3 linked regions of the Homo sapiens genome follow. The protein of the gene in region 2 purifies or fractionates together with the protein of the main gene of each other region. This does not show direct contact. Each region holds a gene or a part of one and is shown on either strand. Other genes may lie near its edges.

What was found.
Region 1: the proteins of OR4N2 (region 2) and RHBDD1 purify together in Homo sapiens (affinity purification with mass spectrometry; one large-scale study listed by BioGRID and IntAct). This does not show direct contact.
Region 3: the proteins of OR4N2 (region 2) and ABCA2 purify together in Homo sapiens (affinity purification with mass spectrometry; one large-scale study listed by BioGRID and IntAct). This does not show direct contact.

The regions. Positions count from the first base shown.
Region 1 is NC_000002.12:226,842,436-226,846,086, forward strand, and holds part of RHBDD1 (rhomboid-related protein 4), read left to right. Parts: intron 1-3,651. UniProt on the Homo sapiens protein: Intramembrane-cleaving serine protease that cleaves single transmembrane or multi-pass membrane proteins in the hydrophobic plane of the membrane, luminal loops and juxtamembrane regions.
Region 2 is NC_000014.9:19,820,766-19,824,416, reverse strand, and holds part of OR4N2 (olfactory receptor 4N2), read right to left. Parts: intron 1-3,651.
Region 3 is NC_000009.12:137,018,174-137,021,824, forward strand, and holds part of ABCA2 (ATP-binding cassette sub-family A member 2), read right to left. Parts: intron 3,438-3,651; coding exon 3,219-3,437; intron 2,889-3,218; coding exon 2,521-2,888; intron 2,323-2,520; coding exon 2,163-2,322; intron 1,134-2,162; coding exon 1,005-1,133; intron 898-1,004; coding exon 730-897; intron 643-729; coding exon 546-642; intron 179-545; coding exon 5-178; intron 1-4. UniProt on the Homo sapiens protein: Probable lipid transporter that modulates cholesterol sequestration in the late endosome/lysosome by regulating the intracellular sphingolipid metabolism, in turn participates in cholesterol homeostasis.

The sequences.
Region 1 (3,651 bases), on a different chromosome or scaffold from region 2:
GTCTTTAATTCATTGTGAGTTAATTTTTGTATGTAATATAAGGGGTCTAGTTTCAGTTTTCTGCATATGGCTACCCATTTCTCCCAGCACCATTTATTAAATAGGGAATCCTTTCTCTATTTCTTGTTTTGGCCAGGTTTGTCAAAGATCAAGTTGTTGTAGTTGTGTGGTCTCGTTTCTGAGTTCTCTATTTTGTTCCATCTGTCTATGTATCTGTTCTTGTACCAGTACCATGCTGTTTTCGTTACTGTAGCCTTTTAGTATAGTTTGAAGTCTGGTAGTGTGATGCCTCCAACTTTGTTCTTTTTGCTAAGAATTGTTTTGGCTACTTGGGCTCTTTTTGATTCCATAAAATAGTTTTATCTAAATCTGCGAACAATGTCAATGAAAGTTTAATGGGAATAGCATTAAATCTATAAATTACTTTGGGCAGTATGGCCGTTTTCATGATATTGATTCTCTCTGTTCATGAGCATGGAATGTTTTTCCATTTGTGTCCTCTCTAATTTCTTTGAACAGTGGTTTGTAGTTCTCCTTGAAGAGGTCTTTCACTTCCCTTGTTGGCGGTATTCCTAGGTATTTTATTCTTTTTGTAGCAGTTGTGAATGGGAGTTCATTTATGATTTGGCTTTCTGCTTGCCGGTGTTGGTGTATAGGAATGCTAGCAATTTTTGCACATTGATTTTGTATCCTGAGACTTTGCTGAAGTTGCTTATCAGCTTAAGAAGCTTTTGGGCTGACACAATGGGGTTTTCTAGATATAGGATCATGTCATCTGCAAACAGATAATTTCACTTCCTCTCTTCCTATTTGAATACACTTTATTTCTTTCTCTTGCCTGATTGCACTGGCCAGAACTTCCAATACTGTGTTGAATAGGAGTGGTGGGAGAGGGCATCCTTGTCTTGTGCTGGTTTTCAAGGGGAATGCTTCTAGCTTTTGCCCATTCAATATGATATTGGCTGTGGGTTTGTCATATATGGCTCTTATTATTTTGAGGTAAGTGCCTTTAATCCCTAGTTTATTGAGAGTTTTTAACATGAAGGGATGTTGAATTTTATCGAAGGCCTTTTCTGCATCAGTTGAGATACTCATGTGGTTTTTGTCTTTAGTTCTGCTTATGTGATGAATCACATTTATTAATTTGTATATGTTGAACCAACCTGGCACCCCGGGATGAAGCCAACTTGATCGTGGTAGATAAGTTTTTTGATGTGCTGGTGGATGCAGTTTGCCAGTATTTTGTTGAGGATTTTTGCCTTGAGGTTCATCAAGGATATTGGCCTGAATTTTTCTTTTTGTTGTTGTATCTCTTGCCAGGTTTTGGTATCAGCATAATGCTGGCTTCATAGAAGGAGTTGGGGAGGAGTCATTCCTTTTCAATTGTTTGGAATAGTTTCAGCAGGAATGATACCTGCTCTTCTTTGTACCCTGGTAGATAGAATTCAGCTGTGAATCCATCTGGTCCTGGGCTTTTTTTGGTTGGTAGGCTATTTGTTACTGTCTCAATTTCAGAACTCATTTATTAGTCTATTCAGGGATTCAATTTCTTCCTGGTTCAGTCTTGGGAGGGTGTATGAGTCCAGGAATTTAGCCATTTCTTCTAGATTTTCTGGTTTATGTGCATAAAGGTCAGCAGCTAAGTGAGCTCTTGAGGTTTGGGGAGACTTGGTAGATCTGGAAAACTCTTCAAATTAATGCTGTGAGAACCAGCTTCAAAAGTTGTTGGTCACATAGTTTCTCAGCACAACTTTTAAATTCCAGGGAAATAGTTATTATTCCAACTTTGGTCACTATCACCTTGGATCAGTATTGGAAATGGCACCCTTGATTGATAGCTGCCCCCCGCCCCCCGGCCCCTTGCCAAAGACCGCATCCAATGGGAGTGGGAGACAGATTCCTGTTACTGAAAGAATGAAGTATTGATGCTATGCAGGCAAAAAGCCCTAAGCTGTTCCCTATCACTTAATAATTTGTGGACATCCCATGTGGTTTGTGGTAATATAACATATATTTGAAGCATGGCATGCTTTTCCCCCTTTTCACTAGTTGTTGTGCAGGGAAGACTTGAGTTACATAAATAATTCACAAACACTTCTTACACAGATTAATTTAAATGAGAGCAGGGAGTGGTGGTAGCTCTCATTTTTTCATTGACTTTAGGTAGACAAAGAAATCTGGTGCAGAGTAAACCTGAATATGGAACTACTTAAATCCTGTTGAAGGAGCGATCATGGGACGCTGGCATTGCTGTTCCCTGTGTGCCTCCTGGTTTAAAAACCTAGGTCTGAAGGGCTGTCAGTTGGAGAACTTTAATGAGCCCTCATTACACTAAACCGTGTGGTTTATGAGAGAAGAAACTGGCTTATGATTGATACTGGAAATCATAAATGGTGATGGGTCAGAATTGGAGTTGGCACTAATTCACCTAGCAGTGGAGCAAAATTTAAGATTATATACAAAATCTGGTAATTTCATTTTTTAGCCATTATTTTTTATGTATAAATATAGTCTAATCATTTTCATTTATACTATATAACACTTTTAAAAGGTGGAGAAAGAATTTTGCCAGCTGATGCTGACATTTTTTTTTTCTTCCTAAAATGGAGGCTTATTAAATTCTCAAATCATCAGATAATCTTGACAGAGATCCTGGTTTGAGATTTTACATAAAGTTTATTTTAATGAAAAACATAATTTCTGCTTTCAGGTTTCTTCTCTATATTTGTTATACTTTTTAAAAAATGCATGTGTAATTTAATCACACTATGCAGTTTTAAAATGTAGGGTCACAGAAAGTCATGGAAAATGCTAATTAGTTACTATGTTATCACAAAAACATTTTAAAACTATTTTAAGTCTGATTTGTCACAATTTGTGATTTTGTGTAATAAATATATATACATATATAATCCCATTTAATCCTTGTGAAACCAAATGAGCCTATGTTATCTTTTACAAGTGAAACTCTGAAGGTTAACTTTCCTAAGAGCACGTGGCTGGTGTATCGTAGAGCCAAGGACCATGCCCTTAACTGCTGTCCTATGCTGCATATGTTAATATTGCCACCCTTGTATATAATTTTGGCAAAAAGCACTGGGACATTTCTTTTCCCAAAGCCCATCTCTTTACTTTCAGTTCCCTGACAACTTCTTTATATTCTGAAACTGTTAAAATGTGTTGTATTATCCATCATCTTGTGCTTCTGTTTGTTGGGAATGTGGCAACAGCTCCTGTATTGCAGCAGTGTGCCCTGTGAAGCCATTTGTTCTTTATGTCTTAGAGCAGCCTGACAGCCTTTCGTGTTAAATTCAGCAAGATTGCTTTTCATTTAACAAAGCTGAATGTTGCTTTCTAGGTGAAAAATAATTAAATGCTTTTAAAGATATATTTGATTAACAGGAAGCTGATCTGTGTAAATTAATTATAACCATAATGATGTCATAGCCTTGTCTTTTGTTATTAGCCAGGTAATTGACCAGAAGTTTAGAAGCTTATTGTAACTGACAGTTAGTAGTTTGACCTTGTGTGCTGTCTGAAAGTGAAACATGCACAATGAATGTAAATGCAATTTGTTCATTGAGCTGCATGTGCTGTCAGAACATCTGATCTTGGGTTCTTGTTTTTATTTTTCCATTATTTCTTTGTTGA
Region 2 (3,651 bases):
AGCTCTTCCATTCTGCCTGTGTCCCAGCCTCACTGTTATTTTTCTACTGTTTCTTAACAGATGGGATTCTGTACTACTTGACTTCTTGATGAACTTTCTTCCCTGTCCCATTTCCATCTTTCAATTATCTCTACCTTCTCTAAATGGTGGTTGGAATAGACGCAGAGTCTAATCAGATGAGCATTCCTCTAAGCAAAATAAAATAAGTTTCTGCCAAAAAAAAAATCCATATATGATGGCATCAGCAGAGTAAAGTGTTCTATTTTAGGCAAATTAGTAGAGAAAGTTCTGTCAAAAGTCTGTACCATACCCTCCTCACTGTATCTCTAATCCTTCTTGCCATTTCAGCTAATTCGTGCATTGATCAGTTTCTGGCCATGATGACACACTACAGAAATAGGGAAGATGAAGGAGAAGGGTTCACCACATTTGCAGGGTGGAGACACAGAAACATCTCCAGGCAACTCTGTGTGTGCATGCCTGGAGTCTGAGTGTGGTCAGATGAGCTCCTGGAGCCAAGTGTTTAGAGATCCTATGTGCTTACTCAACCTCCTTCCTTATTTTTCTTTTTCTCTCTTTCTTTATTCATCAATAAGCAGTTTATTTTCTTTTTTTTTTTCTGGTTGTGATTTCTTTTCCCTGTTAATTTGTTGCCTGTTCTTTTCCCCTTCTCTGTTTCTTTCTGGCTCTATTTATTTTGTTCTCTTTAAATATTGTTCTTTATTATTTTTTCTTTCTTCTCCCTTACATTTATCTATGTTTTTTCACTCTGATATGTTTTCACTCTCTCCACTTTTCGTCTATGTTCATGGCTACTCCATTCTACCCCACACCTGTCTTGCTAATACATCTAAAAACAAAACAAAACAAAAACCAGAAAATCTTATTGTCATTTTCTTTCCCAACAAGAGTGAGAAATGTGTGTGCTTCCCACCATCTTCCATTTTAAATATTAAGTCTACAAAATGAAAATATATAATTCACTCTTCAGTAATAACCATTTACTTTTAAGTGGTATTCTTGCAGTTGGCCAACGCTGAGTCACTTATCAACTACTTCATACTTGTAAGTGAACCTGATAAAAATGAGATGATTCACCTTTTTTTTAAAAAAAAGAAGTTAATTTCATTAGTAGCATCCTAATGAAATAAATATATTGAATACAAATTTCAAAAATAGGGATGTAATATTAGTAGTAATAGCTCACTAATGATGCAAGGTTAGTAAATTATTTGAGTATGAAATAATAAGTTTTATATTTTCTAAAAAGTGTGAATCAGGCTGAGAACATAATAGAAAATTTAATTTATGCTGATGCTGCTGATGAGTATATAAAGCACTAAACAAATGTATAGATTCTTAGCCAGAAAATTTATTCATCAATCAAATGAGATGGCCAGATTAAATGGCCTCTAAATTCCATTTGAATGCCAGTTTTTTAGGCAATGTAATAACATAAAAGGATCCCTGGTTTGGGAATCATTTATCTGACTCTCATGCCTTGAATGAGCAATTAACTTATTGTGTGATTCTGGGAAAGTCACTTAGCTTTCAGAAGCCTGAGTTGTCATCTACCAAATAGTTTAATGTATTGACTCTTTGGGTCTGATGGGGGTAACATGAGGATCAAATGAGGTGATGATGGTATTAATATGTAATTCATTCAAGTACACTTCAACCAAAGTTAATCCTGAAAATATTTAGATGTTAAAAGTAGTTATATTGAATGGACAGAATGCTGCTAGATCTTTTGTCAATGTCTTTGAGTAACCCCTGGGATAATGGTAGTTGCATAAATCTGAAAAGTTAATAGAGAGAAGTTGTGGAGGGTCAGTAATGCCTTCATGTAAAATTGCCAGTACAGCTAGTGGTTTGTATATCAAGCTTTTTTTTGGTTCTACAACTTTCTGTCAAAATTCTAAGAATGAATGATATAACCACATGCAACAGAAGAAACTTTCATACCTGCTGAATGTGAAAATGAAGAGGTCAAGGACTTATCTTCTGCAAAATCATAAAATCTGTTAAGTTTTTCTCTGGAGCTTTTAGCCTACCATTTCTGCATCCTCCTCCCTTTTCTTCCATATTTAATAAGGAAAATGATACATATCAGTCATTTGTATGATTTTTGGTTTTTAACACCAGATGTCAATTCTCTTGAGTCTATGGAAAATTATAATAGAATTAAAGGTTTTGTTTGCCAGTAAAGTAATCCCAAGCATTAAATGCAGATGGAGATCTATTAGGAGAGAGAGTACATAGTGCCCCACTGCTGAATTTAGACCTTAGCCTGTGGCTATTCCTGCTAATACTCTGACCTGTCTATTCAACTGCAATCTAAGATATCAGGTGAACAAGTAAAATAGTTGCAATATTTTTTCTATTGTCCCTTTCTTCTTGTTTCTTGTATATATATGAAGAGCTCCAGAAATTTAAGCCTTCAGGGATCTTATGTTACTCTCACAAAGTAGGCATCCTCCCTCTCCTAGTAAGACTAACCAGTTTTGCCATTGTTCATAAATGTTCATTGCCACATGAGGAACCTTAGATTTTAAAATCTCTCTATTGTAATGGAGAAAGTTCTTTTGAGATTTGAGACTACCATGACCCACTGAATGCTTCCAAAGGGAGTTATTAGGCAAGCTATATTAGTTATCAAATAAATAAGGCAAAGAAAAATACCAGAGTTTGCAAGAACTAAATTTTTTTAAATGTGCTACATAATACCAAGCTGACTTACTTTCTAGTTCTAAAACAAAAATTCTATCGTGAGAAAGACAGAACCCTATTCAGAAGCATATTTTTTAGTCCAGAAATAAATAGAAGTTTGAGAGAAGTAAATTTACGTGTTATAATAAAATTCAAAAGGAGAAAAATATTAAATAAATGATGAGAGATTATTGCTTTGTACCACGAAAGCAAGCAGGGGTAGGATGAGGCAAAAAATACATATATACATATATATATATATGACTAGACTCAAATTTTTCAATTAAAGGCTTCACCAAACTTTAGACGGTGGCTGGCAAGATGGCCAAATAAGAGCAACTCTGGTCTGCAACTCCCAGCAAGACCAACGCAGAAGGTTACTCACAGAAGATTTCTGCATTTCCAACTGAGGTACCCAGCTCATCTCATTGGGACTGGTTAGACAGTGGGTGCAGCCCACGGAGGGTAAGCCAAAGCAGGGTGGGGCATCACATCACCGGGGAAGTGGAAGGGTTCAGGGAACTCCCTCCCCAGCCAAGGGAAGCCGTGAGAGACTGTGCCGAGAGGAAAGGTGCATTCTGATTCAGATACTAGGCTTTTCCCATGGTTTTTGCAACCTGCAGACCAGGAGATTCCCTCAGGTGCCTACACCACCAGGGCCTTGGGTTTCAAGCACAAAACTAGGCAGCCATTTGGGCAGACACTGAGGTAGATGCAGGAGTTTTTTTTCATACCCCAGTGGCACCTGGAATGCCAGCAAGATAGAACTATTCACTCCCCTGGAAATGGGGCTGAAGCCAGGGATTCAAGTGGTCTATCTCAGTGGATCCCACCCCCATGGAGCCCAGCAAGCTAAGATCCACTGGCTTGAAATTCTTGCTGCCAGCACAGCACTCTGAAGTTCACCTGGGACACTCGAGCTTGGTTGGGGTAGGGGCATCT
Region 3 (3,651 bases), on a different chromosome or scaffold from region 2:
TCACCCTGGATCCAGACGAAGCCGTAGAGGAAGTAGAAGCGGCCGCCAGTATTGGGCCCAGGCCGCCAGTAGGCGCGGCGGATCTCGTTGGTTTTCTCGGTGAAGCTGGAGTTCTGGCGGATCTTGTAGTGCACGTGAGGCGGGAGCGAGCCGTCCTTCCGGGTCTGGAAGATCACACCTGGGGCCGGGAGGTTGGGGCGGGGCCAAGATGCAGGGGCGGGACCAAGGCGTGGTGGGGGGGAAAGCAAGGCACGGGGGCGGGGCCAAGGTGTGGGGGCGGGGACAGGAGGGTCCAGGGAAAGGTGGGACAGGGCTGGGGTGGGGGCCCCAGGGGAAAGGTGGGCAGAAGTGGGGAGGTGCAGGGAGGGGGCGGGTTGTGGGTTGGGGCCGTTTGGAAGGGGCAGGGGTGGGGAGGGGAAGTGGCGGGTGAGGGGGGAAGGCCAGGGCGCGGCCAAGGAGTGGGAGGGCACAGGGGGACGGGTGGGGCTGGGCTGGGGAGGAAGAGGTCTGTGGGGGGCTGGGGCGGGGCGGGGAGGGCAGCTCACTGGCAAAAACAGTGACGTTGTCCTGGTAGGCCTGGTTGAGGGTGTAGTTGACAATGCTCTCCTCGTCGGGGAAGCCCTTGAAGATGTCCACGCTCACCTAGCGGGAGGGGCATCGCTGGAGCCCGCCGTGGGCATGTGCGAGGCAGGGGGTGTCGTGGGTTGGCTCGGAGGCCCCACCGCTCACCTTGGACATGAACTGGATCCAGCCGCAGGCCGCGTTGTCAATGGTATCCAGCTGCTGCAGGAGGGCCATGCCACTGGGCAGCGAGAAGTTGTCCTGTCTCAGGGCCGGCGGCAGCTCATCCAGTGACAGGTTCAGTGCCTCGGGGTGCAGCCGCAGCTCTGCTACATACTTGGGGTGGAGGGGCGGCTCAGAGGGGGACCTGCGCCTGCCGAGCCGGGCAGAGAGGGGCTCCCCACACCACCCACAGCCGCCTCCCTCGCGGGCACCCTTGGCACCTGCTGCAGCCAGCGCAGGTGTTGCTGCAGCCTGCCCTGCTCCAGGAAGCTGCGGATCTCCGCCGAGATGTTGAGCCAGACCTGGGCATAGTGAGTCACGTTGCCCACAAAAGCAAAAGTCTCGTTGGCCTGCAGGGGGTGAGGCAGGGGCATGGAGTTTCTGGACGGACCCCCACCGACTTGGGGGCTCTCACCCCACTCACCTCCCCAGTGGCTGGTCCATTGCCAACAACTAACCCTCCCCACCTTTTTTTTTTTTTTTTTCCTGAGACAGGGTCTCAGTCACCCACGCTGGAGTGCAGTGGTGCAGTCCCAGCTCACTGCAGCCTCCACCTCCCAGGCTCAAGGGATCCTCCCGCCTCAGCCCTCCAAGTAGCTGGGATTACAGGTGCCCACCACCACGCCTGGCTAATTTTGTATTTTTGGTAGAGACGGGCTTCCGCTATGTTGCTCGGGCTTGTCTCAAACTCCTGAGCTCAAGCGATCCTCCCACCATGGCTTCCCAAAGTGCTGGGATTTCAAGCGTGAGTCCCACGCCCGGGCTCTCCACTCCTTTCTGCGGCGCTCAGGTGAAACCTGCTTTGCCCTCCACTCCCAGGGCAGCACGGCCTCCGGACCCCCAACTGCCCAGCTGTGCCCACCAGCTCCTTTGCTGGACCTGTCTCCATGTGTCCCTTAAGCACCCAATGCTCCACCCTCATCTGTCCCACCCTCATCCTAGGGACCCCCTCTACACCCAGGATTGGCCTCGTCCACAGGCCCTCCCCTCCCAGGCCAATGTCCAGCCCTGGCCTCTGCTTGTTCCAGACAGGACCCCTCACCCAGAACCCAAACTGCCCAGCTGCCCGCCCACGAGACACTCTGGAAGGTCTCTGGACACACCCCTCCTCCACCAGCACTGCCCTGGACCGGCCACCCCCAGCCGGAGGACCCTGCCAGAGCAGACTCTCCAGTGCCTTCCCACAGCAGCCCCTGGAGCTCCCGAAAGGAAAAGCGACCCCCTGGTCCCCCACCTGCAGAGCCTGTGTCCCATCCGAAGCTGCACCCCGTACCCCTCCCGTGTCAATTCTGCCGACACCCTCTGCCCAGGGGTCCCAGGCCTGCAGAGACCCCCTCCCACTCTGCCTGTCAAACATGGAGCGTCCCAGACCCGTGCACCTTGAGGATGACGCGGTCGACCTCAGAGCCCGCAGGCGCGTACAGGATTTTGGGGTTGCTGGTCATGAGGTGCACGAGGAGGCCCAGGTTCCGCTGCTCCTTGCTCGTGAAGCCCAGGGAGCTCATGTTGCCCCGCCGCAGCGCCTCGGGTTCAATGGTGCTGGGGTAGGGGACAGGGGGCCGGGCCAGGCCGTTAGGGGGCAGGGCCGCGAGAGTGGGAGGGGCATCGGGATGGGGCAGGACTTCGGGGCACAGGGCAGGGCGCCAAATGAGACCTCCAGAGCCAGAGCCTAGATTCAGGGCTCACGCCCTGCCCCTGGCTGTCCTCCTCACCCCCATTCCCCTGCCGCCCACCTACCGGTTGTTGCCACACAAGATGGGCTGCAGGCCGGCCCAGAGCTGTACGAAGGCTGAGCACTGGCCCTGCAGCGTGTCCGGGGTGGCCAGTGCTGCAGCAGAGGGTGCGCCCTCCTCAGCGGTGGCGTTGGGGCCCATGACTGCCCCTGCCCCAGTGCCATTGGCCGCCCCACCCGCACCACTGGCTGGGGGTCCGGGGGTCCGGCCAGTGCAGGCACCCTGGGGCAGTAGCAGGGCCAGGGCCGACAGGACATCCACATCCTGCAGAACCTTCTGGGCATCCAGCAGGTCCCCCAGAAGCGCCTGCAGCCTCCGTGGGGGTGGCGCCTGTGGCGAGGAGTCCGAGCCGTTGGGGGCATCCAGGCCCAGCTGAGGGGAAACAGGCACGTGGGCAGTGCGGGGTGAGATGGACTGCAGGTGGGTGATAGGTCAGGAGTGGAGCAGGGAGACAGCAGCAGGGAGACACAAGCTAGGGGTGCTGGGAGGGAGTCTGCAGCCTGGGTAACGGGAGCCCAGGACAGGAGCTGGGATGGTGAGCAGGAGTGGGGCACCAGCCATGGTGCCATTGGATACCCACCCACAGGCAGCATCCCACGCACAGCCTGGGCCCAGGAGCCCTGAGCTCTCCAAGCGGTCCCAGCCCCTCCTTCAACTCAGGCAGCAAGCAGCGCAGCGGGCAGTGGGCAGGCAGGGCCTCACCTGCTGGGAGACCTTGGCCACGTCCAGCTGGTTCCGGAGCTCAGCAGACAGCCCAGAGAAGCGCCTGGCACGCGCAGCAGCCTGCCCACTGCAGACAGCATCCCGGTAGCCCTGCAGGGCTCCCTTCTGACTCTCAGGCACAGTGAGGATCCGGCCCAGCTCCCCCGAGCCCGGCGTGCAGGTGAGCTGCTCCAGGAGGGCAGGAGCCAGCAGCAGCTCCTGGGATGGGCACAGGGGTCCGTGGAGCCACGGCAAGGACTTTGTCCCCAACCACTAGGGCCTCAGGCCTCACCCTGCCCCACCCACTGGCTGGCTCTGGGGCTGCCTGGGTCCCACGACATGCCTCTACCCCTCATGCCTGCCATAGACCCCTGGGACCCTCCCCCTCTCCCAGGAGGAGCTCCAAGTCACCAAAGGGGCCCTTTCCTCACCC